7 separate regions of the Homo sapiens genome follow, and regions 1, 2, 3, 4, 5 and 6 are each reported to be linked to region 7. The links are microRNA targets in miRTarBase. Many come from high-throughput screens and were not tested one by one. Region 7 holds a microRNA gene; each other region holds the end of a gene's coding sequence.
What was found. The annotated mature microRNA hsa-miR-519d-3p reads CAAAGUGCCUCCCUUUAGAGUG and lies in region 7 at 3,092-3,113, shown strand. An mRNA with a match to its seed (bases 2 to 7 or 8) in the 3' UTR can be bound and repressed. Matches are read on the target gene's strand: a 7mer-m8 pairs with bases 2 to 8, a 7mer-A1 pairs with bases 2 to 7 and ends in A, and an 8mer does both.

Region 1: the mRNA of ZNF597 is a reported target of hsa-miR-519d-3p. Seed matches in the 3' UTR shown: 8mer at 3,759-3,766.
Region 2: the mRNA of SPOPL is a reported target of hsa-miR-519d-3p. Seed matches in the 3' UTR shown: 7mer-m8 at 1,432-1,438 and 7mer-m8 at 4,204-4,210.
Region 3: the mRNA of YIPF4 is a reported target of hsa-miR-519d-3p. Seed matches in the 3' UTR shown: 7mer-m8 at 2,071-2,077, 7mer-m8 at 2,703-2,709, 7mer-m8 at 3,819-3,825 and 7mer-A1 at 4,298-4,304.
Region 4: the mRNA of TLCD3A is a reported target of hsa-miR-519d-3p. Seed matches in the 3' UTR shown: 7mer-m8 at 3,430-3,436.
Region 5: the mRNA of OLAH is a reported target of hsa-miR-519d-3p. Seed matches in the 3' UTR shown: 7mer-m8 at 3,652-3,658.
Region 6: miRTarBase lists OCRL as a target of hsa-miR-519d-3p. Seed matches in the 3' UTR shown: 7mer-m8 at 1,071-1,077 and 7mer-m8 at 1,386-1,392.

What each region holds. Positions count from the first base shown.
Region 1 is chr16:3,432,566-3,436,960 of GRCh38, forward strand. ZNF597 (zinc finger protein 597) reads right to left here. Exons shown (of 4, transcript NM_152457.3): 4 at 1-4,395. The coding sequence ends at 3,859. Among named protein-coding and RNA genes, the nearest start is that of ZNF597, 8.7 kb to the right of the region's middle.
Region 2 is chr2:138,568,488-138,572,878 of GRCh38, forward strand. It overlaps SPOPL (speckle type BTB/POZ protein like), which reads left to right. Exons shown (of 11, transcript NM_001001664.3): 11 at 449-4,391. The coding sequence ends at 593. Among named protein-coding and RNA genes, the nearest start is that of LINC02631, 31 kb to the right of the region's middle.
Region 3 is chr2:32,304,977-32,309,349 of GRCh38, forward strand. YIPF4 (Yip1 domain family member 4) reads left to right here. Exons shown (of 6, transcript NM_032312.4): 6 at 513-4,373. The coding sequence ends at 650. Among named protein-coding and RNA genes, the nearest start is that of YIPF4, 29 kb to the left of the region's middle.
Region 4 is chr17:740,858-745,182 of GRCh38, reverse strand. TLCD3A (TLC domain containing 3A) reads right to left here. Exons shown (of 5, transcript NM_024792.3): 5 at 2,215-3,882. The coding sequence ends at 3,613. GEMIN4 (gem nuclear organelle associated protein 4) reads left to right here. Exons shown (of 2, transcript NM_015721.3): 2 at 1-762. The coding sequence ends at 317. Among named protein-coding and RNA genes, the nearest start is that of GEMIN4, 9.2 kb to the left of the region's middle.
Region 5 is chr10:15,072,675-15,077,069 of GRCh38, reverse strand. It overlaps OLAH (oleoyl-ACP hydrolase), which reads right to left. Exons shown (of 8, transcript NM_001039702.3): 8 at 3,217-3,983. The coding sequence ends at 3,841. ACBD7 (acyl-CoA binding domain containing 7) reads left to right here. Exons shown (of 4, transcript NM_001039844.3): 4 at 1-1,595. All of the region lies in intron 2 of ACBD7-DCLRE1CP1 (ACBD7-DCLRE1CP1 readthrough), which reads left to right. Among named protein-coding and RNA genes, the nearest start is that of ACBD7, 14 kb to the left of the region's middle.
Region 6 is chrX:129,589,614-129,594,008 of GRCh38, forward strand. It overlaps OCRL (OCRL inositol polyphosphate-5-phosphatase), which reads left to right. Exons shown (of 24, transcript NM_000276.4): 23 at 232-343; 24 at 533-2,943. The coding sequence ends at 657. Among named protein-coding and RNA genes, the nearest start is that of OCRL, 52 kb to the left of the region's middle.
Region 7 is chr19:53,710,309-53,714,703 of GRCh38, forward strand. It overlaps MIR519D (microRNA 519d), which reads left to right and starts at 3,039; the gene lies at 3,039-3,126. MIR524 (microRNA 524) reads left to right here and starts at 694; the gene lies at 694-780. It overlaps MIR517A (microRNA 517a), which reads left to right and starts at 1,960; the gene lies at 1,960-2,046.

The DNA.
Region 1 (4,395 bases), not on the chromosome of region 7:
CAATAAATAGAATTCTGAGGTATCCAAAGGAACTGGAGATTACAGCACATTCTTACGTTTACACAGAAGAATATTTATATTGTATTCCCCCCCTACAGACTTAATGCAAAGAGGACTGTCAATTTTAAAAGACAAAACACCTGTACTACTTAGATGGGCCTTGGAAAGATGGGTAATGGTTATCTTTGAATCAGATCAATAGCTCTTCTAAATTACAAAACTAAACCAGATGAATACATACACTTCTAATGTAATGAACATCATTTTGTTAAACAGATGGTCAAAGCAAATACACTTTCCTACTAAAATCCCACAGGGATAACAAGTTTAATGAACATTCAAAATAGACTATTCATATAAACTATAACCTGCTATGTCTCCCTTTGTACACATAGGCAGTAAATTGCAGATTACTTTGATCAAACTCTGCAGTTTCAGATTGTATGACATCTTATGCTGCAGTCACTAGAACATTGCCACTTAATTATATGGAAACTCAGGAGGCAAAGACTCAAAATGGCATTTGCTGTGAAATGTCATTTGAGTTTTAACTCCCTGAATTATTGGGTTAGTCATTTTCTATGTTAAATGAGGAGGTGTCAATAGACTACCACCTGTAGCAACAAAGCTCTAAATAAAACTATTCTGAGTCGACCTCATTCAAAACAACTACATTCCACAATTTCTTAAATTATAAAATGTAAACTGCTGACATCTGAATTCCATTGGAAAAATGCTGTTTTCATCAATGACGACTGTTTAAAAGACTGTTTAACTATTCCAGCAATCATGTTAAGGAACTGTTGGATATACATTTTCATCACTGCATCAACGACAAAAACGGAGAAATTTGTCTGAGTCAATTTATTCAGCACAAAGTTTTCACTCTCATAGTGTGTTGATTTCCATGCTGCAAAATGCAGTTAACCAATCATTCATAGCAATAAACTCTTGCATTTAGTTTTTCATTCCCATATTAACTTTTATCCAGTATTTGTGAATAGCACCTAACATGGAAGGCTAGTATCTGAGTTAATGACAATTTTATGGAATTTATCTCCATCAGTTGACACTGTAAACAGAAGGGTGAAATGCCATCATCATAAAAAGCCTGAAGCTCACCAGCAGATATATCTTTTCCTTCAATTCCCTGGGGGTAAAGCAGCTTGAATTACATCTAGCAAATGTATTTAAGTACAACTGCACAATAAGCACAACTGAAAATATGCCTCTTTCACAGTAACTGACACTTCCGGGGTTTTCATTTTTTTCTGCATACTAATCATTAACAGTATTATACCAAAAAGCCATTTTAGTTCTACCCACACGTATGTTAATGTTTCTGAAAAGGGCTATTTTTTCTAATCTTTTAGGAAGTTTGTCGTAATCTTCCAAAATCTGGAGAAAACTGCAAAAAAAAAAATTAGAGGTTAATTGTGAAGGAAGACTCGTGTGGAAAGGCAAACTTCCATATTAAGGTGCAGAACAGGATGTATGGCACAAATTCTCACTTTCTGCTATATTTTCTAGGAGCCAAAACAAAAATGACAGCATACATCTTTTATATCACCCCCATTCTGTCCAAGTGCCTTCTAAGATATTCCCCTCTACTTCTTTCTGCAGCAACTCTGCTAATCCAGACCTTTCCCAATTTCATCCCCCATCCTGTGACTCATTAGATCTTTGACTGAACTCTTAGGGCCCCTGATATGTGCTGATGAGGCTCCTGCCAGTTTCTCCCACTGAGGGCAGAAGCAGGAGAGCAAGGAGGTGGTGTTCTTGTTATTTAACAAAGGTCATGGTATCTCAGAGTTGCCTAATAAGTAATCTAACTGGAGACTATCTTTCTACACATTTCAAAGCACCTCAGAGAAACCTGGAAGCTGGTGTCCTGTCTCCTAAGAGTGGAGACATCAGAAACAAACAGCCAAAGTCTGACCTTGACATACAGAGCAGCACATTGTCTCAACTGTGGATCTGCAAACAAGAAACAAGACAAGAATGACAAAGAGAGAGAAACTCTCTCTGGGTTAGGGATGTTTTTGTTAGTTTCAGTTTTTCTCTCACCTGAACAGTATCTTCCTGCCTCTACTCAGTAATAAGAGCTTAGCTGAGTAGCCAGCATTTTTTGTATATTTAGTCCTCAATCTGCTGTTCTGTAGGACCACCTTCTGCTACCTTCCATATAATTAGTCCTCAAGAGTCCTTTATCTTTTCTCCCAGCAAAAATTCCCAGCAACAATTCAATTTTAGCAAATATTGTACTTTTATACTGTCTATTTAAATAGAATGAGAGCATTCTTCCATCCTAATCAAAACCCATGTAAATATTGTTTTGCTGATAGGCATACAATCGACTTTAATGAGAAATTGTATATGAATCTATATTTACAACATTCTGTGGTTCTTTAACATTAATAACCATACCATTTAATAATATTTTGCTCCAGTATTTATCTATAATAGCAATATCTAAAGATCTATATATTATCAAGTATTTTGGTTAAAATCTAACAATTTTCTATATGCATTTTCTTTGGAGATGGAGAGGAAATGTTATGGGTGTTTTTTAAAAAACCAAAACCCAGTTAAGACCTTCAGTATTGTACTCTGCCAAGTGTGAAATCTCTCATCTGATTAGAGGGACAAGAATTCAAACCTGAAGTCCTGGAGAGTCTTCTGCTGCTTTGTAACTGTATATGTTAGTCAGGCTTTGGGTACAGCACAAAGGGAATGAAGGGGTTCCAGGATGCAAGCACACAGAATCGCCTCCATGAGGACCACCCTCACCTATCTCAGCTCCCCTTTCCCTGGCTGCCTGCAGTGCTACTACGTGGTGCAAATGCCAACAAATGCCGCAGTCTTGCAGACTGCATGGCCTTTGGAGTCAGAGAAACCCAAGCTTAATGTCAGTTTCACCACAATGTGATTTGTGTGCTGGGCAAAGAACTGACTTTACCCTCTGAGGACTTCAGTTTCCTCGTTTATGAAACAAAGATTTTTTTTCTCTGTCACAGATTCTGAAGATTAAATTACATAATATATCTAAAGTAGCTAGCATGCTCACTGAGAAACAATTACAATTATTCATAGTAAGACAGGTAATGTGCTTCAGTAGCAATTTGGAGGCAAATCTTAGAAAAGAGCAAGTACTTCTCCCCCTCCCCAAGTCAAGTCCAGCCTCCAGAAAAGGGCTGCAGTTAGACTTCCAAAACTCCTTGCAAACAATTGGGTCCTAAATGCCAGTATGTGCCCCTGGCATCAGAACCATGACAGAGAACTCCGGATACTAATGGCCATCAAAATATAAACTAGTCTACCCATTTGGGAACTTTTACAGGGCAGAAAAAAACTTCTGAACGCCTGTGGGAATTCACATGTAGAACAGCAATCTTATACAAGTATTACATTCAAATAGTTATAGCAAAAAAAAGTATAAAACATATAAAAGCATTTACTTTCCTAGATATGTCTGCAGAACTGGCAAAATATAAATAAATTCTCCTCCTTCTAAAAGTCAGAAACTACGTAAACAAAATTAAAATAACTTTAGCAAGAGCCTTCATTTTAATGAAAATTGAATTTAAACAAAAGTTGTGTATCTTCTTCTGGCTCACAGTTGTACAGTAACTGAGTTCAAATCCTGGGTTCATTCACTAGTTTAGTGACACGGATTTTGCATCCCTACTTATAAAATGGAAATGATACTGCCTAAATCACGGTTGTGCTGAGAATTAAGTATTACATGGGAATGTGTGTAAAGTGCTTAGCACATTGCCTGGGACATATACAGTAACTGCTTCCCACCATACAGATACTGAAAAGCCCAATCACTAATAACAATTTGTTATATTTACTTTACGTGGTGTTTTTTATGTGAGTTCGCTTATGAGTAATGAGATGCAAATTCGACTTGAAAGTTTTCCCACACACGGTACATTTAAAAGGTTCCGCTAGCATGTGGCTCTTCTGGTGGCATGCAAGTTCTGAGTCCAAAGCAAAACTTTCCTCGCATGTTTTGCACTTATGGGGCCTTTCCTCTGTATGAATGTTCTGATGGGAAATAAGCTCAGAGAAACAAGGAAAGGTCATGTCACAGTCAGGACACTGTAAGGGCTTGAATTTTGAGAATGAGAAGAAATTGTCCCCATCATCGCTGCAGCGTTCAGAGTCCTCGTCGTGGCTCTTCTCGGAAAGGGCAGGATATAAGGACTGCCTGAAGCTCTTCATGCACTTAGTGTGCTGGTACTGGGGGCCTGATACGAATGTTTCCTCAGGCAAAGCAAGATTTGGTTTCTCATTAAAATGTTTATCACAGTTAGTAGATTCGTAGGTGTTTTCAGCACTGTGGCTTTTCTGATGCTGTGCCAATCCTGGGAGCCACATAAAACCTCT
Region 2 (4,391 bases), not on the chromosome of region 7:
TAGCAAATCGGTAGTTAACATCATTGAATTTCATAGTTAAAATTGTGAAGAGTGGATGAGATAGAATTAGTAATGCATGTTAAGGGGGGAGAGTAGAGTCCAATATTTGTAACTCAAGAGAAAATCTGCCTTATAAGAGGCATGTAAAAGAAGAGAAAGGGACTCTTGAAAGAGCTGGTACAGAAATTGTAACAATGAGAGTTGAACTATGAAGACCCATGTCACATACTTTAAGGGAGCCGAACTTCCAGAAAAATTTAATAGTTTCAGTTGCCACAGAAGATACCAGTAAGATAAAGATGGTATTTTAATAAAAGCAAATGATTTGAATACATAGGTAAAAAGTGTTCAAATATTTTGAAATTTGCAAGTTTTTAAGAAATTAACAGTGCAATAGTGCATTTTGAAAAGTATTCTTTAGTAAATATCTTTTAATTCTATTTTTCAGCCAAGCAACCGACATAATGGAAACATCAGGGTGGAAGTCCATGATTCAGTCTCACCCTCATTTAGTAGCAGAAGCCTTTCGAGCACTAGCATCTGCACAGTGTCCACAGTTTGGCATTCCACGCAAACGGCTAAAACAGTCCTGAAATCTTCCATGAACAGTTGAAAAATGGAATTGACTTTCACTCCTCCAGGTCCAGAAGGATTCTAATACACAAACCATAAGCAAGAGTTGTTTCTGTTATTTTGTCCACAGAACAGAAGCTGAAAAAGCATATTGCTTGCATTTCAGGTGGATAATTTATGGTTTATTCTTCAGCTTTAAATTAGACTGATTAATTCACTTCAAGGCCTTAAATTATCTTCAATGACTTGTCTTGTTCATATAATACTTTAATTTTTTTTTATTGTGCCTTGTCATTTTGACCAAGGCTATGCAGGATTGCACTAGCTCCATAATGCAGTAATATTGATAACTGAAGATACTAAGTTTCAAAAGGATCTTCCATTATTTTGCAAAAAGAAAAATGAATTTTATAGGGTTTGTCCTATGCTATCTCAAAGTTTAAGTTCTCTTTAAAAGCACTTGTATTGGAGATTACCAGTAATATCTCCAATCTAAGTTCTATAAATATGGGAGAACCCTCTTACCTTCAAGGTAAGTTATGGCAATACACTGCTTCAATTCTAATTTATTTTTCATTTCAGGGGGCAAATATGCAATGAGTTGGCCTAGATTTTTAGTGACATTTATGATGTTTGTCTTGTATGTTAACTGTCCAACAAACTGTGGGTTTATTCTAAGTTTACAATTATTGAGAACTGATTGAGGTTAAGATTTCATGAAGAAAGCATGTATTGTGTGGAAGTAATTTTTTTTTAATTTATACTGACCTACATTTATACGAAGAATTCTGTACATGTTAAAAGTAAGGATGACCAAATGCAAATTTAATGAGTGGGCCAATTAAGAAAGATACATATGCACTTTTACTGTGTAACTTTTGTATGCTGAATGGTACATATATTTTTTTGCTTTTGAGGGAATTAATAAGGTATAATTAATTGTGTCTTAACTTTTCAAAGAAATTTTTAGATGGAGGCAACTGGGATGTTTGTGATAATAGATGAGAAAGACATCCTTGATTGTAGTTAAATTGGTTTGGATTACAGATATTCATTATTGAATTGACTCCTATTTTCTCACACTTTGGAAAAGACACCTGAACAATAAATGAATCCTGGATAGTCTACTCTCCTTCAAACAATTAACTGATACTTGCCTTTGGGAGATGCATACAAAAGGAGAGAACCCTTAGACTATGTCAGGTCACACTAGGAACCTCCCCTCACTCCCCGTTTTTCTTCATTGTGTTTCAGTTACTGTACTAACATTGTGGATGATACTGAAATTCTGCATAATGTGAACAGGATAAACTATTTATAAACTGCTTTTCATGGGCCAGTTCTTTATTATAAATGAATTTTAGCTTTAAATGCATATACACGTTCAGTGTTTGATAGTTGTGTTCTTAAGGGAGGTTTGTTCTGGTGCATTGTCCTGGAGAAGCAGAAGCAGTCAGTGTTGGGGTACCACATCTGACTTACTGTGGTGGTGACCAGTGTGCTTCTTAAGGGCAAGATTTATATTTGACCACAAGGGAAAAAGTGTGTCACTGGAAAAAAACGCATATACCTATGTTTGCAAACATAACTATTCTTCAGATTAAAATTTGTATAATTTGTTTATTTAATGTTTGAATTCAGGACAAAAGAAAAAATGAAGCTTGAGGTGTTTTCAAATAGACCTTATTTTTGCTATCTCTTTGTTAGGTGTTAACTGAAGCAATTCGAATATGTCCAGATTCATTTGGATTCATATTTACATTGAAAAAACTCAACTAAGCATTTGTTATCCACAACAACCTAGAGTTTAAAAAGATCGTATTTTCACCTGTCTTCATTACTTTCTATGTAGTTTCATTCTTTGTCGTGGTAACTTAAATTTGAAATTGGAAGAATCTCTTGGGATAGAAGAAAGATTCTTACCTGGTGATGGAACTTCATACTTCATCCTGTGTAAGAGTATTATGGGAAGTAGAAATTCACTTCCTTAAATCCATCGTAAGATTGAGCCTCAAGTTTGCAATATACAATTTTAAAAATACACATACATACATACATATGTATACATTTCCAGTTTTAAGATTTTGCGAGGGTCTTATAAGAAAACAAAAATTCCCTCAGGCTATAGAATTATGTTGTCATATATCAGAAAAGTACTGATGTATCCATTTATATCCAATGCGCACCACACCGGCACATTGTGATTTAATTCACCGCTTGAATCTATATTTCTAACCACAGTGACTTCAGTAAAAATACCGTATAATGAACATTTCAGCTTCTTCTTACTTACTCGAGAGTTTATTGCAAATCTTAAGGATTTTATTATAAAGATTTTTTTTTTAGTTTGGTAGCACATTTTGTACCAAAAATGTCAAACACTGTGCTGTAAGAATATCCATGTTTGTAGAAATGTCCACTTTTCAGATAATATAATGCCTACCATTATACTAACAGAATCATATGGTAGTTGATTTATTTTTTTATTTATTATGTATATTTTTGGTATTGTGGGTTCTTGAGGCAATGATAAAAACACTTAATGTATTCTGACATGAGTGCTCTAATAGCCTCCTTCTCCTCATTTTTAAACTGCATACATTACTTTCAAAATAGGTATAGATACTCTGTCCCGCCTTTTGAGCTATTAGCCTGTTCCTGTTTCCCTTTGTCACCTAAGCAAGGCTTTTTCTGAGAAGGTAGTGAATGGTTTCAAATGTTGCATACTATAAGAATAATCATTGGGTAACTGTTGTTTAGACCAACACTTAGAAATACTATATTTGTGCCTTTTCATTTTTAATTTTAATGTGTGTTGATATTTGGAGCACAAATAATGAAGGTGCCATAATATGGCTTGCCAATGTTACCTCCTTGAATAGTCATGTGTCATTGTCTTGAATTGGTAATTGGAGAACCTTGCATGAAATATGTGATCGTGTGTGTGTGTGTGTATGCGCGTGTGTGTCTGTGTGTTTGTGTACATACCTGTATTTGCTTGGGGCTTGTGTGTGGTATGTTACAAAGAGTGAATTTCTGGAAATAGAAATCAGTTAAATGTTGAAAGTTCAGGTTAGCAGAAATATTTCATTTAAATATGCTTTACTTTGGAGGACAATTGATTAACAGAGGAAATGATAATTTTCAAAAATGTGATCAATTTACTGCATGATGAAATGTGAAAACAGTGCCTTTTTAGGACATCAATTATAATAAAATTGTTTTAAAATATTAACAAAGATCTCAAAAAGTTGTCATGAACATTATTCATTTATTTTTAAACTGGATCTAAATAAGAGCTTAGATGGCCAAAATTAGAATTAATAATATACCCATTTAAATTTTGTTCATAAATTTAAAATCTTAATCAGAATTCTTTATAAAATGTGGGTCATAGATATGACCCAGTGTTACTAAAATAGAACAGGGATTGTGAAAATCCAGCTCAACATACTTAAGTATACTTGGCTTAGAGCCAAGTATACTTGAAGAGGTGAATTATTCTGACTTGGACATGCATGCTCTTTGATGGATAAAATAAAAATATTCAATTTATTCTTACAAAAGAAGGTGGGTGGGTGAGTGGGTTCGTTTTAGTGTTCTCAGATTATAAAGACAGCTATAAAGACAGCACTTTCCGCACACAAAGTGTATTTTACAAACCTTTTTTATACAAATTAATGAGCTCTACTTTATTTAAGTGTTCATGGAATGATGTAAATTTTAGGTCCAGTTGAACAAATATTGAGTGCCTATCATATGCAAGACTAACTCCTTACTAGGAATGAAATCACACAGTGTCTTCTGTTTGCAGTATG
Region 3 (4,373 bases), not on the chromosome of region 7:
AAGACTTAATAAATATTGTATAAAATTTTTACTTAATCGATTTTCTTATTTAGAAGGAAAAGGAAAATTTCCTACTTTGCAGGAATTAGTTTTCTCTCAGTAATTTGGTATAATAATAGTTTTTTCAAAAGTTGCCTAATCATAATCACCAGGGAACTTATTTAAAATACTGATAACTAGATCCTTCCCTTAGAAATTATAGCTCAAAGAAAAAGAAACAATAAGTTATAATTTAACAGAACTAGAGAGTCCCCCAAGTCTTTTTAATAGGCACCCCAAGTGATTCTTATGATTAGACTGGTTTGATAAGACCACATTTACAGAAGTCAAGGAGTAGAGCAAAGATGGACATTCTTAATAAGTTTTTAACATTTGTAACAAGTTTTACTATTTACCAAAATTGGTTGTTGATTTTTTAAAAATATTGTAAACACCATTTTTACTCTATGATATCCAAAAAGTTAATTGACTTGCTAATATGCTGCCTTTTGTCTTTTTTCCTTTTTTTAAAGCTGTTTGGTGTGTTTTGGGCTGCCTACAGTGCTGCTTCATTGTTAGTGGGTGAAGAATTCAAGACCAAAAAGCCTCTTCTGATTTATCCAATCTTTTTATTATACATTTATTTTTTGTCGTTATATACTGGTGTGTGATCCAAGTTATACATGAATAGAAAAAGATGGTGTTAAATTTGTGTGTAGGCTGGGAATTCTTGCTGAAGGAATTGGAGAAAACCTGTTGCTGCAAAATTTTACATGTTCCAGATGGAAAGGGAAGTCTAAGCGCTTTTTAAAACAATTTTTTTTTGTATTTAATTAAGCAATTGCAGTTATCTGGGATTTTTGGGTCAGAATTTTAAATTCTGTTTGATTCTCCATATTCCAGTGAATAAAATACAAAAGCATTGTGTTTTTAAGATTGTGTCGATATTCACCTAAAAACTTGTGCCAAAAGCACCTGGATTGGTAATTATATTTCACTTAAAGGGTAAATTTGACAATATCTTGATAATCAAAAGTGCAATTTTTTTCTTCAAAATGTTTTCTCCAGCATCACAGATCCTGCAGATATATATTTATATTTATACATATATATTTATGAAATAATTCTTACTCACAAAATATATTTCTGATAAACATTAAGATATTAAATCTGATGCACAAACTTTTTAATTTGGCCATTAATCTTTTTTATTTAAAAATTTAAATTTGTTTTTAAAATTGTATATAGTTTTTAAAATCTCACACATGCTTCGATACTTCCTTGTTAAGAATTCTTAATAACTACTAAAACTGATTTTTAATAGTTGCTGATATATATTTGGTTTGTTTGGGTATACTTTTCAAAACCATTTTTGAATGTCCAAACATCTGATTTAAAGTTTCTGTTTATCTTTCTGACCAAAGGAGCAAGAGGTATAATGGATATGGCATTCATTAAAATCTTTACTATGTACAAAAACAGTAATATTTACAGCATCAGTAAATATTTTTAAGTGGTACTTCTAAATCATAAAAGTTGGGGAAAGAGACCTTTAAAATCTTGTGGTGTTGAACAATGTTATATGAAGTAGAAAAAATAAAATACTTCCCAGTTGTGTGTTTTGTTTTACAGCACCATGTCCTGTATTACTTGATATTTTAACAAGTATCAGGTACTCTCTAACAAATGTACAGTTTTTGCTAAGGGAAATATTAAGAAATTTTTATCAGTGAAATATTTGTTGCAAATAATTTCATAGGTTTTTAGATACACCTGTAGTTAATATTACTTTGTAAAGTAGGTAAATCATTTTATTTATGTCCATAAAATATCAAATGTCTGTTAACTATTAGCAAATTATTGTATTATCCTTTCTGGTCTCACCTGGAAGAGTTTCCTGCTGTCCTCAGTATGATAACATGGCGACCTCTTGGTATGTATTTCTTTAGCAAACTTACCCATCAGGAAATATCCAGCACCTCTGAAGCAAACCTACAAATGAGTGTGTTATCAAGCCCAGCCGTCTTCCTTTCCCCTAATCCCAAAAGGAAAGAAAGAAAAACTTATTTTAAGCTGCAGAAAAAGTGTGGAGCACTTTTGAGCTAGAATAATGTAGAAAATTACATGTACTGATTTTTTTAAAAACAGGTGAGAAGCACCAGAGGGACAGGACTTCTAGAAGTTAGAATAATATGAAGTAATCAGGAAATATCTATGCCTACAGAAGCAGCAACCGTAAGATAAACATTTGTTACACTTAAGAAATTGCTGAGGTTAATACTTTGTTATAATGGATTATAATATTTGACATTCATAGTGTTGACCCTGGAATCTTTCACAGAAAGCTTGGGGGTCAGGACCAGGAGGTAGAATTTTACAAGGCAATAAATGAAGGTATTTTAAGATCACCTCTATTAAAAAATGGTTTAATTTTTAAAAACTATCATTGCTTTAAGGTATGAATTTTAAAAATCACTTATATGGATCATGTTTACTCCTAATGATATAAGATAAAATGAGGTATTTTTGTTCCAAAAAGTATTTTAAAATAGCATTTAATCTTGGGAACTATCTTACTTAGGGTTTCTATAAATACAAATTACAATGTTTCGAACTCAACCAGTATCATTTTCGTGTGCTAATGAGCAAAGTAGTTAGAACAGATTGTCAGTTTAAAAACAGGATTTGTAGGCCAGGCACAGTGGCTCACGCCTGTAATCCCAGCACTTTGGGAGGCCAAAGTGGATGAGCAGCTTGAGTCAGGAGTTTGAGACCAGCCTGGCCAACATGGCGAAACCCCGTCTCTACTAAAAATACAAAAATTAGCCGGGCGTGGTGGCAGGCGCCTGTATAATCCCAGCTACTCAGGAGGCTGAGGCAGGGAGAATCGCTTGAACCCTTGGAGGTGGAGGTTGCAGTGAGCCAAGATTGTGCCATTGCACTCCAGCCTGGGTAACAGAGCAAGACTCTCTCAAAAAAAAAAAAAAAAAAAAAAAAAACCATGATTTGTAGATGTGTGCAAGACACAGTACTGCTATGGCTAATAATGGTAAGATGACCCTAATAATGTCCTCTCCTTGAATTTTTATATAATAATATTTTCTGAGTCATAACTAATTTTTTAAATAATGATTTCCAATCTAATTATTAATTAGAATTTTGTTGTTGTTGTTTGAGACAGAGTCACTCTGTCACCCAAGCTGGAGTGCAATGGCACGATCTCGGCTCACTGCAAGCTCTGCCTCCCGGGTTTGCACCATTCTTCTGCCTCAGCCTCACGAGTAGCTGGGACTACAGGCGCCCACCACCATGCCTGGCTAATTTTTTGTATTTTTAGTAGAGATGGGGTTTCACCGTGTTAACCAGGATGGTCTCGATCTCCTGACCTCGTGATCCGCCCGCCTCAGCCTCCCAAAGTGCCGGGATTACAGGTGTCAGCCACCGCACCAGGCCAGTTCATTAGAATTTTTAAAACAGGCTGGGCATGGTGGCTTACGCCTGTAATCCCAGCAGTTTGGGAGGCCGAGGCAGGTGGATCACCTGAGGTTGGGAGTTTGAGACCAGCCTGACCAATGTGGAGAAACCCCATCTCTACTAAGAATACAAAATTAGCCAGGCATGGTGGTGCATACCTGTAATCTCAGCTACTGGGGAAGCTGAGACAGGAGAATTGCTTGAACCCAGGAGGCAGAGGTTGCGGTGAGCTGAGATCGCGCCATTGCACTCCAGCCTGGGCAACAGGAGTGAAACTCCATCTCAAGAAAAACACAAAATACAAAACAAAACAAAACAAAAAAACAGAACTGGGCCGGGCGCGGTGGCTCACGCCTGTAATCCCAGCACTTTGGGAGGCCGAGGCGGGTGGATCACGAGATCAGGAGATCAAGACCATGGTGAAACCCCGTCTCTACTAAAAATACAATAAATTAGCCGGGCATGGTGGCGGGCGCCTGTAGTCCCAGCTACTTGGGAGGCTGAGGCAGGAGAATCGCTTGAACCCGGGAGGCAGAGGTTGCAGTGAGCCAAGATCGTGCCACTGCACTCCAGCCTAGGTGACAGAGTGAGACTCCGTCTCAAAAAAAAAAAAAAAAAAAATCAAAATCTATATAATTAAGCATTGTTTTTTAAAAAGTAGTTTAGGAAGATTTGTAAAGCTTATGAACCATTGTAAAACCTTATTTCTAAGGTCTGTAAGACAGTTTTATATGTAATAATGTGTCCATTTCCAGGAATTCCCCAAATACTCATACAGCCATTGAGCACCCCAATCCAAAATTCAGAATGCTTCAGATAAGAACATTTTTGAGTGCCGATGTGACACTTTAAAGGAAATGTTCATTGGAGCATTTTGCATTTCAGATTTTTGGATTAGGAAAACTCAACCACTGTATTTC
Region 4 (4,325 bases), not on the chromosome of region 7:
TCAGGGCGATACAGGCAGCTGGCCCTTGGGTTCAAGGACCAGAGCAGGACCTGACCCAGGAAGCCCTGTTTGTTTACACCCAGGTGTTCTGCCATGCTCTGCACATCATGGCCATGCTCCACCCGGAGGTCTGTGAGCCACTCTACGTTTTAGCCTTGGAAACCCTCACCTGCTATGAGACTTTGAGCAAGACCAACCCTTCTGTCAGCTCCTTGCTCCAGAGGGCACACGAGCAGCGCTTCTTAAAGTCCATTGCTGAGGGCATCGGCCCTGAAGAACGGCGCCAAACCCTGTTGCAGAAGATGAGCAGCTTCTGACTTGGCGTGGGGAGCTGGGCCCCAACATGGCGGGTCTGCAGAAGATCAGCAGCTTCTTACCTGTGCGGGAGCGAAAAAGCTGGGCTTCAACATGGCAGGTCTGTAGGGGTCAGACCCGAGCAGCCTGGACTTTACAGTTATGTGAAACTGTCCACAAAAAGTCATGGCAATAATGGTGTAAAGAAAATAGTTTCTTGGGTATTTGTAACGTACAAACTATCATAAAAATTCTCCTCTTTCGCATCTCACTTTGTCTCTTCTAAGTCGGCCTCAGCAATAGCCCAGGATTAAATATGCTCTGAAATTGGGTTTAGTGTCTTCAAGATCAAATCCAGCCAGGAGGAACATGTTCATAACTGGACTTTTCCATCCTAGATTTTGGCAAATAAGCCCAAAGTTGAAACCATGTGAGTGGAAAAAGCATTACATGGTACGTATAACCCCCTTCAAGAGTTATTTCGTCTTTTAATGTTTTTTTCTTGAGGTATCTTGGAAAGGACAGCAGCTTGGAAAAGAATCCAGTCCAGCCCTGGCTCTGCCTCTGGCCATGAGACTGCTGTGCCCGAGAGGCCTGCACAATTCTAAAATGAGAGGATTGGAGGACCAAGATAAACTCAGTGGCGAGGGGCTAGGTTAGTGACCTCAAGAAAATGGGTCCCCTCTGAATTGAGGAGTGTGTACAGTCTTTGTTGCTCAGACTAGCCTTGAACCCCTGGACTCAAGTGATCCTCCCACCTCAGCCTCCTGAGTAGCTGGGACAATAAGCACACCCACTTCCCATACAGTCTTAACTCCATCTATTCAGTCACCCCCAAAGGGGCTACTGTGAAGACGAGACCTGGCAAACCCAGCAGAGATGTGCTGAATGGATGGGTCACGTTAGCTTTTGCCTCAGGAGGGGTTGTCAAGATTTGGATGAATGAATGGTTTGGATAAGGGAATGATGTGTGCAGGAACATAAAAAATGAGTTTGGGCCAGGTGCGGTGACTCACACCTGTAATCTCAGCACTTTGGGAGGCCGAGGCGGGAGGATCACTTGAGACCAGCCAACATATGGAAGCCCTGTCTCTACAAAAAAAAAACCACAAAAATTAGCTAGGTGTGGTGACACACAGCTGTAGTCCCAGCTACTCAGGGTTCTAAAGCAGGAGGCTCACTTGATCCTGGGAGGTAGAGGCTGCAGTAAGCTGAGATCAGACCACTGCACTCCAGCCTTGGTGACAGAGTGAGACCCTGTCTAAAACAAAAAAAAAAAAAATTGAGAGTGGGCTAGGCATGGTGGCTCACACCTGTAATAATCCCAGTGCTTTGGGAGGCTGAGGCAGGAGGATCACTTGAGGCCAGGAGTTTGAGACCAGCCTGGGCAACAGAGATAACCTGTCTCTACAAAAAGAAAAAAAAATGAGTTTAAGGTGTCTGAGGTATGAGGAAACTATGAAAATTGGCTGGGGACATGTTTAATGTGTGAGATGAAAGGGGGAAAAAATATGTCCCATCACTCCCTCCATATCCACACCCTCCTTCACAATGGGGCATTACTCAGGTTCTCCTCAGGTAAAGTAGGCTTGGCTCCCTGACCAATAATCGGTCTTCCACTCTCCCAATTCCTAGTAAGATTCACTTATGAAGAGAAGAAACGGTCTCAAGTTACGTGTGACCACTACGCTTGAACTCTGGGAACCTTCAATGTATTACTGAGACCATGAACCACAAAAATAGGTTTGAGTGAGGTGTGAGCTAGACCTTTCTGGAGGCTGAAAGCATTCACACACACACCCCTCTGCTAGTTACATGGACACAGACCTTGAGCCACAGCACACGGCAGCCAGTCGAGCTAGGTCACAGGATGATTCTTACAGGACACTGATATTGATGTATTTCACAAATGAGAATAAGTTGGGAATGTTAGTGCAATTTAATCACCGTAAGGGTGACTTTTAAAGATACACTGATAGTTAAAAAAAAAAGACAATTAAAAAATAGCATTTTGTTTTTTAAATGGCACCCATTAAAGACTCAACAGTCAAAATGAGACAAATCAGTCCTTTAGACGTTCACAGACAATTGAAAGGCACTTTAAAAATCCACTTTTTAAACTACCACTTGAGAACACATGGTAGCACAGTCTTAAATTCATCCTAGTTGATCGGGAATGATGAATGAGTGTTGGCACCAGAAAATCCTGCTTGCAGAAGGGGGCGCAGGTGTCGGTCCACGGGACAGCCACTGGCCAGGCTAGCTGCCGCCTCACTCCGCAGCCTTCTGTGGCTAAATGGCAGGACGGACACACAGGAATGGGCTTTGGACCACAAGCTCTGGCATATCGGGAGGCAAAGCACTCAAGTACTCTGCAGTCTAGATGACACATTTCATGGTTTGGAGGACAGAAGTAGGTTTCCACATCACATGAAAAGGACAGTGTCACAGTGGGGTTACCCAGTAAACAGCTACCAAAGCCATCATTTCACGCTTCCCTGTAGTTTTATGAGCTCGCCCTCTGCATGTGGATATGGGGAAAGCCGGGCATGAAGGGGTGTGTGAAAAAGAACAGCCTCTGTGACTGACTGCAGTAAGCTCACAAGTTTGTCACTGTCAGACTTAGCAAGTCAGCCTGCAAAGGTTGTGCTGATCTCTTGGCCACACTACCTACTCAGGTTCCCATCCATGCCTCCTGCCTGCCCCCACCCCCAGCCCCACCAGTGAGACTTCTGATTGGAAGTCTATAGACATAAGAATTCAACTCTGACCCATGGATGAGAGGATGAGGCAAAGAACCAATGGGTTATCTAGTAAACGATCAATAACTACCTACCCACAATGATTGTCCCAGGCCAATGTCACAAGACGACATTACTTCCAAGAACCAAGTCATCCCTTGCTTCTGCGGGCCCAGTGCCACGGGTACTGTCCTGAGTGGTTTGGAAGGTGGGTAGCCGCTGATACAGGGACAGGCAGATGTGCAGACACTTACCACCCTGGTCCACCGATCCCACCCCATGCTTCCACCTCCCAGAGCTCTTGAGATAAGACCTTAAGAAGGATCCTTGGGCTTGCATTAAAACCACTTTGCTGTCCGTGGAGGTCTGACAGGACCCAATAGTTGTTACTACAAAAGTGCTTTTGCAAATAGGGCAAGTTAGAAGAAGGAGGTAATATGAATATTCTTTAGAAAAACTCAAATCCATCGGCTTATCAATACCCAAAGTCTGAGGCTACCCAGGGCACAATTTGGTCCATGGAATGCTGAGTGGAGGAGGCAGCTGGTGTGAGGCTGCGCCTGACTCCCAGGAGCATTTAGCCATCCTTTTTGGCTTGGGGAGTGTCAAAGAGCCGGACTGCCTTCCTGCACAGCAGACAGAACCAGTAGATCTGAGGAGCTACGAGGAAGGCATTGGCCACGTTGCAGTAGAATGGGATGCTGAAGGGTACTTGGAGCAGGCTTAGTCCCTGCTGGCGGCCATAGGACCAGTACATGAAGGGGAAGAGAAGGATCCGGCAGGAAAGGAAGGTGGCCAGCGTGAGGATTCCATTCACCTTGTACAGAAGGGTGTGCTGCTGCTTTAGCTGCAATAGAAGAGGAAGGAAAAAGGTAAGGTCACCAAGAAGCTGGGCATCAGGGAGCGACGGGCCCAAGTCCCACCACAGTAAATGCCACACAGGTGCAGGTGCTCATCAAGACCTTGGCTGTCAGATTCCCTGGCGCCCAGACGTTTGTCTAGTTTTCTAACACTTGGAGAAGACATTCTTGAACACTATCATATTGAGATGTGCAAATAACCTCATTTTCTCCAATAGTGATTTTGAATTTGACCCAGGCCACCCAGCTGACAGGAGTACAGGAACCGTGGATTAAAGTATGTGTGTAACCAGGGAAAAAATAGAATGAGCTGTATCAAACTATCAAACTTAGATCAAACCTACAATTTCACCCCCACTGGCTGAGATGACCAGCTGACCTTTAAGGCTGTTGAAGGATCTCTCATCCCACTCTCCTGGCACTAGGGATT
Region 5 (4,395 bases), not on the chromosome of region 7:
CTGGGTAGAATGGTAGTTCTATTTTTAGTTCCATGAGAAATTTCCGTGCTGTTTTTCATAGAGGTTGTACTAATTTACATTCCCACCAATAGTGTATAAGCATTCCCTTTTCTCCACATCTGTTGTTTTTTGACTTTTTAGAAAGTCTAGCCCTGGTAATATGTGTACAGATTTGAACAGCTGTTTGTTCTTTTGGCTCATCTGTTCTGTTACAATAAGTTAATGTTACTGGTGAAATAAAAACAGGTTATTAAGAATCAATGGCAAGGCTGAGCGTGGTGGCTCACGCCTCTAATCTCAGCACTTTGGGAGGCCGAGGTAGGTGGATTACTGAGGTCAGAAGTTCGAGACCAGCCTGACCAACATTGCAAAACCCCATCTCTACTAAAAATACAAAAATTAGCCAGCCATTGGTGGTGCACACCTGTAATTCCAGCTACTTGGGAGGCTGAGGCAGGAGAATTGCTTTTACCCAGGAGATGGAGGTTGCAGTGAGCCAAGATCACACCACTGCACTCCAGCCTGGGCGACAAAACAAGACTCCGTCTCAAAAAAAAAAAAAAAAATTACAAGTCTGTCCATAGCAGTTTAAAGAAATTTAAAAAGCCCCCATAGGAATATCTATTTTTCTTTAAATTTTTACATTTAAGACATTTAAGACAAAAAGGCAAACTAAAATGTATCTAGTGATAAACTGTACCACTACTGTACCCCATATGTTCAGTTCTATCTGAGTAAAAATAGAGTCTGGAATATAATATTGGCCCCCTACTCAGTCTTTCTGGATGGTACACAGGCTCTTTGAAAGAAGACAGTCTCATGTTAACAATTCAAAAAATTGTTTGAGATCCCTTAAGATAAATATCCCCCAAAACAGTGTACCTCTATTCCCTGCATAAAAATTTAGATTTGGAATGGTATGACCAGAGGAATAGATCCACTTCATGTTACTACAACAACAAAACTATCTAGGTCTGCTAGATGAATTTCCAGGGAATTATGCTGAGCAGAAAAAGCCAGTCCCCAAATGTGACATGTATAATTCCATTTATATAACATTCTTTTTCTTTTCTTTTTTTTTTTTTTTTTTTTTGTTGAGACAGGCTGTCACTCTGTTACCCAGGCTGGAGCGCAGTGGCACGCTCTCGGCTCACTGCAACCTCTGCCTCCCAGGGTCAAGCAATCCTCCCATCTCAGCCTCCAGAGTAGCTGGGACTACAGGTGCGTGCAACCATGCCCAGCTAATTTTTGTATTTTTCATAGAGACAGGGTTTCACCATGTTGCCCAGGCTGGTCTGGAACTCCTGATCTGAGGTGATCTACCCACCTTGGCCCCCCAAAGTGCTGAGACTATAGGCATGAGCCACCGCGTCCAGCCAGGATTCTTGAAAGGGAACATTTATAGACGCAAAGGATGGAATAGTGGTTGCCAGGGAGGAGGGAGGTGGGTGTGGCTTTAAAAGGGCAGCAGGAGGGATGATCCTGCAGTGATGGAATGTTCTGTCTTGATTGTAGCAACACCAATATGCTGATTGTGATATTATACTATAGTTTTGCATAACAGTTACCATTAAAGGAAATTGGGTAAAAGGCTACACAAATCTCTCTGTATTATTTCTTACAAATAAAAGGGAATCTGCAGTTACCTCAAAAAGTTTACTTTTAAAAATCGAGGTTGATTTCTCATCGGGAAAATTTTGGCAATCAAGATAATTCTCATCTTTCTAAATTTCGCCTAATGATAGACGTCTTCCACGATGATACCAAGGCCTAATTCCTTCAAAGAGAAGACATCATCAATGATAGACTTGGTGTCTTACAGTTGAGGGCTTGAAAACTCCTGAAAGTTGTTCCCATGTGGACTTTACCTCCACCAGGTAGAGATGCAGGGGAAAAAGCTTACCCCCAAAGCCTGGCATTTGTTCCATCATGAAACTTCAGTTTGCAGACTATACTGACTAAACATTTTTCAAATTAATAATCACGAATCCTAATTATTATTATTATTTTTGAGACAGAGTCTCATTCTGTCGCCAAGACTGGAGTGCAGTGGCATGGTCTTGGCTCACTGCAACCTCCACCTCCCGGGTTCAAGTGATTCTCTTGCCTCAGCTTCCCTAGTAGCTGGGATTACAGGCGTCCGCCACCACGCCTGGCTAATTTTTTTGTATTTTTAGTAGAGGTGGGGTTTCGCCATGTTGGCCAGGCTGGTCTTGAACTCCTGACCTCAGCTGATCCGCCCGTCTCAACCTCCCAAAATGCTGGGATTACAGGCGTGAGCCACCATGCCCGGCCTCCCAATTACTTTTATACCAATCTTTCAGTAAGGGAACCCTGGAAATAGTATCAAATTAAAGGATAAAGTACAACACATACTACAACATAATTTGCTTAAGACTATTTGTAGCCTAAACTCAAAGTGCCTCCCCCAAATAGTTAATTTTATATTTTTTGTACTTTGTTTAAAAAGAGTGATAAATTTAGGAAAATACCACCTGTATGCATTTTCCTTAATCTTATTTACTAAGACCTTATGTACTTTTTATTTTTGAGATAGGGTCTCACTCTGTCACTCAGGCTGGAATGCAATGACATGATCCTAGCTCACTGCAACCTTGACCTCCTGGGCTCAAGCGATCTTTCAGCCTCAGCCTTCCAAGTAGCTGGGACTACAGGTGCACGCCACCATGCCTGGTTGATTTTTAAAATCTTTTGTAGAGACAGGGGTCTCCCAAACTCCTGACCTGAAATGATCCTGCTACTCAGCCTCCCAAAGTGCTGGAATTACTGGTGTTGAGCCACTGAGCCTGGCTCCTATTTCTGCTTTTCTTTTTCTCTTGGTTCCTGTTTACTTCCAGCTGTTGTGCTTTCTCCCTAAGTCAAGTTCAAGTTATTGCTGAGTGAGGCTGAGGCAGCCTCTTAGGTGTGAGATTTGTGCTTGGCCACTCCCTTTGTCACAGGCAACACTCTAGATTGGTTGTCCACTGGGGGGACGATCCAGGTCCCAGCCAGACATGCCAGGGTGGCAGAGCCCCCCAGTAAGTGGTGTAGAATAAACTCCTTAGAGGGGTGGGGTATAGGCATTCTGACGACTTGCCTGCACAGGTGACAATAATTATTTTGGGATCTCTTTTAACAAAGCAGTAGGTTACATTTTCTTACTATGTGGGGCTATTCTACATTTGAAAAAATGAGATCAAGCTTTGAGACACGGTATGCCATTGAAACAATCATTTACTTCAAGCATTTCCCCTGTTAATCATCTTCACCATTAAACTAACTGAAGGAAAAAATGGATAATTTACTAATCATGAATTTTGTCGACAAACTTCCCATAAAGGAGAATCAAGTGAGATTTTAATAGGAAGATAAAAGACTCTGCCAGAAGTATTTTTTTTTTTTTTTTTTTTGAGACAGAGTCTGGATCTGTCACCCAGGCTGGAGTGCAGTGGAGCGATCTCGGTTCACTGCAAGCTCCACCTCCCAGGTTCACACCATTCTCCTGCCTCAGCCTCCCGAGTAGCTGGGACTACAGGTGCCCACCACCACGCCCGGCTAATTTTGTGTATTTTTAGTAGAGATGGGGTTTCACGGTGTTAGCCAGGACGGTCTCGATCTCCTGACCTCGTGATCCGCCCGCCTTGGCCTCCCAAAGTGCTGCCAGAAGTATTCTTTACTGGCTTGACCTTTGTCCCCAGATACGTAAATATATTTATGTAACGAATCTCCCTGACAGTAGAAAATGTGTAATTTCCAATCTGAATAAAACTGAGCTATATCTGAATAACTGAGAAGAGTATGATATTACTTTGATTATTTTAAAAGTGAAAGGGAAAATATCTAAAAATTGGATATCGATGATACTTCTAGACACTTGATTATGTAGTTCTTGATTAATTTCTCGTTCGCAGGATCCAGAAGATAAAAGTGACCCCCTGGAAGCTGGTAAATTTTAGCATTTCCACTGGTTACATCTTTCCAGGCTGAAAATAAACAAGATTGTATTCAATAACAACACCAACAGCAACTAAAGATTCACATCAAGACATCATTTCTTTAAGAGCTGACACCCTGAAGTACGGTTACTTTCAAGGCCTTATGTTCTAGGTGATGAAGCAGGAGCATTGCCATCTTGGACAAGCCCCTCATTCTAAAGTTTACCTTAATCAAAAACCACCTAAATCCAAAAGGCATCATCAGCCTAATGGCTAAGGTCACCATAACCATAAACCATAGATAACATCTCCAACCAGAAACGTTCCAAACTCCTCCCTGACCAGAGACATGTTAGCCCCAAGATAACCCCCCTCTGGCCAGGAAGATGACGGCCTCGAGATAACCTTGCTTCCGGCCGCCAGAAAGATGTCTGCCCCAAGAAAGCCTCCCCTCCTCCCA
Region 6 (4,395 bases), not on the chromosome of region 7:
CCACGTGGCCTGGTCATTGAGTGGACAGGGACCAAACAGCACGGCCACTCTTACTTTGAAGTTATAATTTGGAAGGTATTGTGTTGGCCATGAGGAGATAATAGAAGTTAGACAGATGAAATGGGTCCTGCAAGGGTTGGATTATAGACTACTATTACAGCAGCTGTAAGTTCCTCTTACTTTCATCTTCCACCTGTTTTTCTCACTGCCTGCCCCTATTTTTAAAAACAGGTGATCTCCCAGCTTCCGAGATGCCATAGAAATGTTTTCCGTTACTTGATGGCATTCCTTCGAGAACTCTTAAAATTCTCTGAATACAATAGCGTCAATGCCAACATGATCGGTAAGAGTGCTTCATGCAACACGGGGCGTTTGTTGAGAATACTCTTAGTGCATTGTATCCAGTATATACCTTACTGCATATGCAGGCACATGGCAGTCAATAGTCCTTGTCCCCAGGCCCTCCAGCCCTGAGGTTTTGCTTAGGTTATGTCTGACAGAAGTTTCCGCTTGTCTTTCTCTCGTCTTGTAGCTACTCTCTTCACTAGTCTTCTCCTGAGGCCTCCACCCAACCTTATGGCAAGACAGACTCCAAGTGACCGCCAGCGTGCTATTCAGTTCCTTCTGGGCTTTCTGCTTGGGAGCGAAGAAGACTAAGGCTTTTACTGTTCTCTGATATTCTAGAAGCAGACGATCTCGGGCTCCAAGTATTTCAGAATGATTTAAAAAGTCATGCCACAGGAAGGGTCTATTGCAGAATTTCAAGTTCTGTTTATAGTAAAAAGGAAGAGCGTTTCCTAATCCCTCCTTTACCATATCCTACACAGAAAAATACTTTTAGACTTATATTGCCAAGCCAAAGTTACCATATTTTGGTGTTTTTGTGTTTTCTCTTTATAAGGCAAAAAGATCTGTATTTACACTCCTTCACCTAGGGATGTGTTTGTTGCCCTCCTACCCAATTGTCATGATTGTCCTTAGTACCCTAGGCCTAGATTCTGAGATCTTCCCATTCTAGGCCTACAAGCACTACTTGCTGTAGCTGAGACTTGTCTAGAGTCCTTTGTTTTGCACTTTTGACCCACCCCTTCCTGGATCACTCCTTTGCACTCCACTCCCCTCGTTCTGTCACTTTGAACGAAGTCTGAGTGAGGCTAGTGACTCCTTGGGTGTCCTCAACAGTGAATTCACTGTCTGCGTGCAGTTATTACATGCATTTGTGCATTTCTACTACAATGGCATCTTTATGTCTCTGTAACATTGGCCTTTTCATGGCTCCACACTGGGTGGAACCATATTCTCTTAGATCACATTTAGTAGCATAACTGTAGGGACTATTAGAGATGGCATCTCATCGATGAGAGAGAATCACAATCAGAATGGAAGCACTTTGAGTATCTGAAGAGTGAGAGCATTCATGTTTGACAGGTCCTGCTTCCCACTATCCTTTTCCTGTTATTATTCAAATTTTACACAAGGACTAATCCTGGGTGTCTCTGAGACCCATCTCCTGCCTAGACATCCACCTCCAGAGCAACACTGGCCCCACAGTAAAAGAGGAAGTCTTGTACCTCAGGCAGGCCCATCTAGAGCTATTGCTCCTTCCCACAGCAAAGGTATTGTGGATGACCCTTAGAATCCATTCTCTGGTCTTCTGAAATACCAAGGGCAGATGTCACCTCCTTCCTCAGCAGGACTGACTCTGGGCTCTACAACCAGCTCCTTCACATAAAGGGTTTAGAGACTCCCCTTGGCTCCCAGTCACCATATCCAGTGTTGTGTAAAGAGACTGGCCAACAGGACCAACCAAGCACCTTACCTCTCCCATACAAGATGACCCTCTGAGCTTTTCATTTATTCAAGCTCTGTGGTACAGCCTTTTTTTAAAATAAATTAATCTATATTGGTTGACAAACAAGCCACCAACCACTGACTGCAAAACTGCCTGATGCAGTTGGGTTCCTCCTGGTTTTCTTTTGTTACAACCACCCTTGCCTGTTTACATTAATTGCAAGGAGCATAACGTACAGGCTGTATGTACAATCCTGGGCATTGACTCTGTGACATTTCTAGCATATCCAAGGCACCACCAGTGATTTCTCCTGTTTCTTGGTGGGGGTGGGGGGGAAGGTACGTATTCTGCAATATGGCTAAACCCTTTCCTGATTGAGAGTTAAAGCAATAGGAGTCAAGTTACTGGTGCCACAGATCTGGAGGTATGATAGGTCAGGGGCTAGGTGTTGAACTTAGTTAATGGAAGACTGAGAGCAGAACAGGTTTGTCATCTCCGCAAGGCCAGAAAGTGATCACAAAAAGAGGCAGATGATAGACACTGGGGTAGGGTCATACCACAGGGAAATACCTTTCCTGGGCTTGTTTTCTAGCATATCACTGACCTGGGATCTTTGGGTGATCAAGGGTGTGGTTAGTGGAGGCTCTGTGCTGCACGTATGCAGTATCCTATCTCTTTCTACATCAGATCAAAACACTAAGTTGGTGTACTGCCTCGACCTTTTTTCAGCTCATCCTGGAACATATACAGAGTTGAGAGTTTTAGACAATCTCTAGGTAGAGGAGACAAGATGTAGACCCAGACAGAAGAAATCTGCTTCCCTACCATGGCTATTCCAGCACCCCAACCTGTAATTGCCAAGTCCTCTAAGGTACTAATTTGTAGCTGCTCTGAAGTAAGGATTTCGGATTCAGCTGGTAGGGAAAGACTCTGCACCTGCTGTCTTAGGGAAGAAATGGTTCAAATCCATGTGGTGACATTGCATTAGTCTCCCTTTCACTGTTTTCTTATTCTGTAATTGTTTGTTATATTTCCCAAAAACGTCTTGATCACTAAGCAAAGCTGCTAGTGGGATTCTATATTTCGTGTCATCTTTTTTATTATAATTTATTGCAAATTTTTTTCTGAATAAATATATGTTGTGTGAAAAAGCAAAGTGTGATTTTGGTGAGGAAGCACTCAGAAGGGAGGGCTTATGTGTCACTGGGTTCCATTCGACTTGACTGCAGTCCCCATCAGCTGTGCCTGCACTGTCATCACCTGTCTTACAGGGAAATACCATTTATAAGAATTCTTAGTATATTCACCCTCAGAGATGAGAAGAAACCATGCGTTTTCAGAGGCTAATAAAGGTGTCCTGTACTTTCAGAGGCCAGCCAAGTACCCTTATTTTAACCCTAAGGATTCAGGCAACAAAACAACTCAATTAGAGGAAAGGATGTTGATTCTTAATGCATGTAAATGTCACACTAGGTCAGATCTGTGATCCCTCCGGCCCCAGAAACAAACCCTAAGATACACATCTGGGGAGAACCCAGCTACCCCTGCTCAGTAGTCTCAGTAGTTTAGACGCGCTTCCCCAAAGAGCTTGTTTTCACATAATCCTATTTTGCAGCTTTTGAAAACCAGTTTTGAACTTTTATGACTTCTTGGGGTGATCAAGTCCATAAATTTAGTACTTTTTTGTTGTTCTAATCTGAACTGCCTAACACGTTGGGAGGAAACCGCTGATTTGAGCATGGTGCCAATGCTTCCCTGCCAATCTCCATTATGAATTTGTGGATTCTGATTCCATTCCCTTTGAGACTGAAGAAGCCTCAGCTGGAGGTTTCTTCTCTACTAAGGCCCTCTTCCAATTCCCTCCAACTGTGAGCTTGACCCTGATGAATGTGCTGACTCAGTGTTGTCATAAACAACTTTCAAAGCCCCACCCAAAGCCTTGGCAGGAGAAGGTGTTTCTTTCTGAGAGTGATTTTCCCCCCAGCAGATGGAGACTGACACCAGAAGTTTTTACATAGTAGCAGGCAATGAGAATAGCAGGCAGGTGGTCAGTCTTTCCAGAGGTTAGAGAGGAAATGGCATCCCCAGCTGTGAGGCTTCTGTTATAGGAGACCCATTAGGACCTTTCTGATTGCAGGGCAAGTTGAAGAACTGGCTCTTGGTGTAGCCTCATAATGTAAAAGCCACACATTGCAACAGTGGCATCACTAAATGTTAGGGAGAGAACCTTAGTGGTGACCTAATCCAATCTCATTGTTTGGATAGGGAAAGTCTCAGAGGGGACAATGACTGACCTAAGGTTACTTAGGTTAGTGACACTGCATGGCATAGTGGCATTTGTTTTTTCAAGCAGTTCTACTCTGCTTGCCCATTAATTCCTTTGGTGGCATCTTATCAATTTCCGTGGCTGTAAATGTCTGTAATACCCCTGATTCCAAATGTTACGTCTCCACCTCATAGCTCTCTTCCGAGTTCCTGCCCAGTATATCCAATTAGTTAGCTGGCATCTCCCCTCAGATGTCTCACAGGCATGTCAAGCTTCACACGTCCAAAGTGGAATTCTTTTACTTCTGGTTCTTTTACTACCACCCAACCTAGATCCT
Region 7 (4,395 bases):
CCAGGAGGCGGAGGTTGCAGTGAGCCAAGATCGCGCAGGTGCACTCCAGCCTGGGCGACAGAGCGAGGCTCCATCTCAAAACAAAACAAAACAAAAAATATAGGCCTCCACATCTATCCAGTCTATTCTGTAATCCCAATGGATGTCAATATTAATACAATGTTCTTATTTTTTCTATTTATTTGTATCTTTTTAGTTGAATCTCCTTGTCCCTGACACTAAATTTTTTTTATTTTTATTTATTTATTTTTTTTGAAACAGTCTTGCTCTGTCGCCCAGGCTGCAGTACAGTGGCGCAATCTCGGCTTACTGTAGCCTCTGTCTCCCGGGTTCCAGTGATTCTCCTTCCCCAACTCCCGGGTAACTGGGATTTTCAGGCACACACCACCACCCCAGCTAATTTTTTTGTACGTTTAGTAGAGACAGGGTTTCACCATATTGGGCAGGCTGGCCTTGAACTCCTGAACTAAGGTGATCCGCCCACCTCGGCCTCCCAAAGTGCTGGGATTAGGGATAAGGCTAACCTGCTTATTCTTTGTAGCAAGGAACTGGAGATGGTCATTTTAGGGGTTTATGTTCTGGATTCCAGAAAACATGCAAACAGGGCCAATAAATGCATCCTCATTTTTGTGTCCATTTTAACCTGGGCAAGGAAAATTCCAACAAAAAACCCAGAGTTCTGGAGCAAGAAGATCTCATGCTGTGACCCTACAAAGGGAAGCACTTTCTCTTGTCCAAAGGAAAAGAAGGCGCTTCCCTTTGGAGTGTTACGGTTTGAGAAAAGCAGCGTTGAAGTTGATGCTTATCTCGGTAATACATTTGTAGAGCATGCTTATCATGAGGCTTGGACGATGGCGGGGTTCTGTTTTGGTTTTGCTTTTTTATTCTAAGACAGGATCTCTGTTGCCCAGGCTGGAGTGCGGTGGCACATCCAACCTAGGTCTTTTGGATTCAAATGGTTTTTTTAGCGGACAGAGTCTCTCTATCACCCAGGCTGAAGTGCAGTGGTGTGATCTCGGCTCACTGCAACCTCCACCTCCCAGGTTCAAGCGAGTCTCCTGCCTCAGCTTCCCAAGTAGGTGAGATTACAGGTGCCCATCACCACACCTGGATAATATTTTCATTTTTTAAAATTCATTTATTTATGTTTTTGAGATGGAGTCTCACTGTTACCCAGGCTGGAGGGCCGAGGCGTGATCTCTGCTCAGTGCAACCTCTGCCTCCCGGATTCAAGCAATTCTTCTACCTCAGCCTCCTGAGTAGCTAGAATTACGGGAGCCCACCACCACACCTGGCTACTTTTTGTTTTTTGTTTTTTGTTTTTTTTTTAGTAGAGATGGGATTTCACCATGTTTGCCAGGCTGGTCTCAAACCCCTGACCTCAAGTTAGCCACCGGCCTCTGCCTCCCAAAGTGCTGGGATTACAGGCATGAGCCACCACGCCTGGCCTAATTTTTATATTTTCAGCAGAGGCGGGGTTTCACCATGTTGGCCAGGCTGGTTGCGAACTCCTGACCTCAGGTGATCTGCCCACCTCAGCCTCCCAAAGTGCTAAGATTACAGGCGTGAGCCACCACACATGGCCATTAACACCTTTTAGTCCATGGAAATTATTCTGGCACTGATTTATAAAGCCTCATGTGGGGTCAGGTAGAGTCAAAGGGGGACCTCAGTGTCCCTTGCAGATGGGATGTGCTCAGCAAGAGCACGGAGGTGGAGTGCATGGGGTTTGAGTTTTCACTGGGGAAATGAAACCAACATCTTGGGTGCATGACCAGGTCATATATGCAGTCATATATGCAATATGCATGGTGGTGGGTGCCTCTAATCCCAGCTACTCAGGAGGCTGACGCAGAAGAATCGCTTGAACCCAGGAGGCAGAAGTTGCCATGAGCCGAGATCCCACCACCGCATCCAGCCTGGGCGGCAGAGTGAGACTCCGTGTCAAAAAAAAGAAGATCTCAGGCAGTGACCCTCTAGATGGAAGCACTGTCTGTTGTATAAAAGAAAAGATCGTGCATCCCTTTAGAGTGTTACTGTTTGAGACAAGCAACGTTGAAGATGCTGCTGATCTTGGTAATACATTTGCAGAGCGTGCTTATCATCAGACTTGCATGATGTCGGGGTTCTGTTTGTGATTTGAAATTTTTCCAAGACAGGCTTTCTATTGCCCAGGCGTGGGTGGATAGCACCTTCCACCAAGATTTCTTGGGCTTAAGTGGTCCTCTTTTTATTTTTTGATTTTTTGAGACACACTCTTGTTTCGTTGGGAGTGCAGTAGCAGGATCTCTGCTCACCGGAAACTCCACCTCTCGGGTTCCAGTGATTCTCCCACCTCAGCCTGCCGAATTGTTGGGAATTCAGGCATCAGGCACCCACCATCGTGTCCTGCACTCTTGCTGCCCATCCTGGAGAGCACTGGCATGATCTAGGCTCACTGCAACCTCCGCCTCCTGGGTTCGAGTGATGCTTCTGCCTCAGCCTCCCAGGTAGTTGGGATTACAGGCACCTACTGCCCCACCCAGCTAATTTTTATGTTTTTAGTAGAGACGGGTTTCACCATGTTGGCCAGGCTAGTCTTGAACTCCCGCTTTCAGGTGATCCACTAGCCTGTGGTCTATCCTGGAGGATGTTTGTGTGTGTGACAATGTATATTCTTCAACATCTTAGACTCCATTTTGGATGCTCCCATCGGAACTATGTATCCCTGTGCTGGAACTCAAGTGAACACTCAGCTCAAAGTCCATTGCTGTTCTCTAGAAATCCAGCCCAGTTCTCTTGGTTAAATATAAGGTATGTGTAGTAGGCATTGCTTTTTCTCTTTAGAGGCAAAACTCAGGAGGGTTGCCCCTTGATGAACAAGGCTAACCTGCAGAGCCTTTGAAGAAAGGAACTGGAGATGGTCCTTTTAGGGGTTTATGTTCTGGATTCTAGAAAACAGGCAAACAGGGCCAATAAATGCATCTTTATTGTTGTGGCCATTTTAACCTGGTCAAGGAAGATTTCAACAAAAAACCCAGAGTGCTGGAGCAAGAAGATCCCATGCTGTGACCCTCCAAAGGGAAGCGCTTTCTGTTTGTTTTCTCTTAAACAAAGTGCCTCCCTTTAGAGTGTTACCGTTTGGGAAAAGCCACGTTGAAGATGATGCTGATCTTGGTAATACATTTGCAGACCATGCTTGTAATCAGACTTGGATGATGTTGGGAGTCTGTTTTTTTGTTTGTTTGTTTGGTTGGTTTTTTTGTTTGTTAGGTTTTTGTTTTTTGTTTTGGTGTGTGTGTTTTGTTTTGTGTTTTTTTTTTTTTCTAAGACAAGGTCTCTGTTGCCCAGGAGAGACTAGAGAAGCACTTTTTAAGATAGGCCTGTTGGGCTCAGATGGTCCTTTTATGGGATACAGTCTTGCTCTGTGACCCAGACTGGAGTGCAGTGGCGCGATCTTGGCTCAATGCAACCTCCACCTCCCGGGTTCGAGTGATTCTCCTGCCTCAGCTTCCTGGGTAGCTGGGATTACAGATGCCTGACATCACACTCGGCTAATATTTGTATTTTTCTTTTTTATTCATTCATTCATTTTTGAGATGGAGTGTTGCTGTCACCCAGCCTGGAGGGCAGTGGCATGATCCCGGCTGACTCCAACCTCTGCCTCTCAGGTTCAAGCCATTCTCCTGCCTCAGTCTCCTGAGTAGGTGGAATTACAGGCACCCACCACTACAACCAGCTACTTTTTGATTTTGATTTTTTTTTTTTTTTTTTTTTTTTAGTAAAGGTGGGGTTTCACCATGTTGGCCAGGCTAGTCTCAAACCCCTGACCTCAAGTGAGCCGCTGGCCTCGGCCTCCCAAAGTGCTGAGAATACAGGCGTGAGCCACCGGGCACAGCCATCAGCACCTTTTACTTTATGGAAATTTTTCTGGCACTGGTATAGAACCTCACGTGGGGTCAGGTGGAGTTGAGGGGACCTCAGTGTCCCTGCAGATGGGATGAGCAAGAGCACGGAGGTGGAGTGCATGGGGCTTCAGTGTTTATTGGGGAAATGAAGCTGAAATCTGGGTGCATGACCAGGAGATAAATGCATGAGACGGCGGTCTCACTATGCTGCCCTGGCTGAAGTGGGCTTAGATCCTCCTGCCTCTGCCCCTCCCCAGTCCTTGGTAGATGGGACCACATGTGAATATTAACCCCCCATGCACAGACAAGAAGAAAGTAAGGACTGTTCTTTGGTTCATACCTGACCCCAGTTAAACTTGTATTTTAGATAAACAATGTATTTGAGATGTACTTGAACAACAAACGATTTGCTGTTCAGGTGTGGGCATCTTTGTTTTGTTTTTTTTTTTCCTAATTTTAAATATGGGACTAGTGTGCATATGGTGGCTCTTGTCTGTAATTCCTGCAC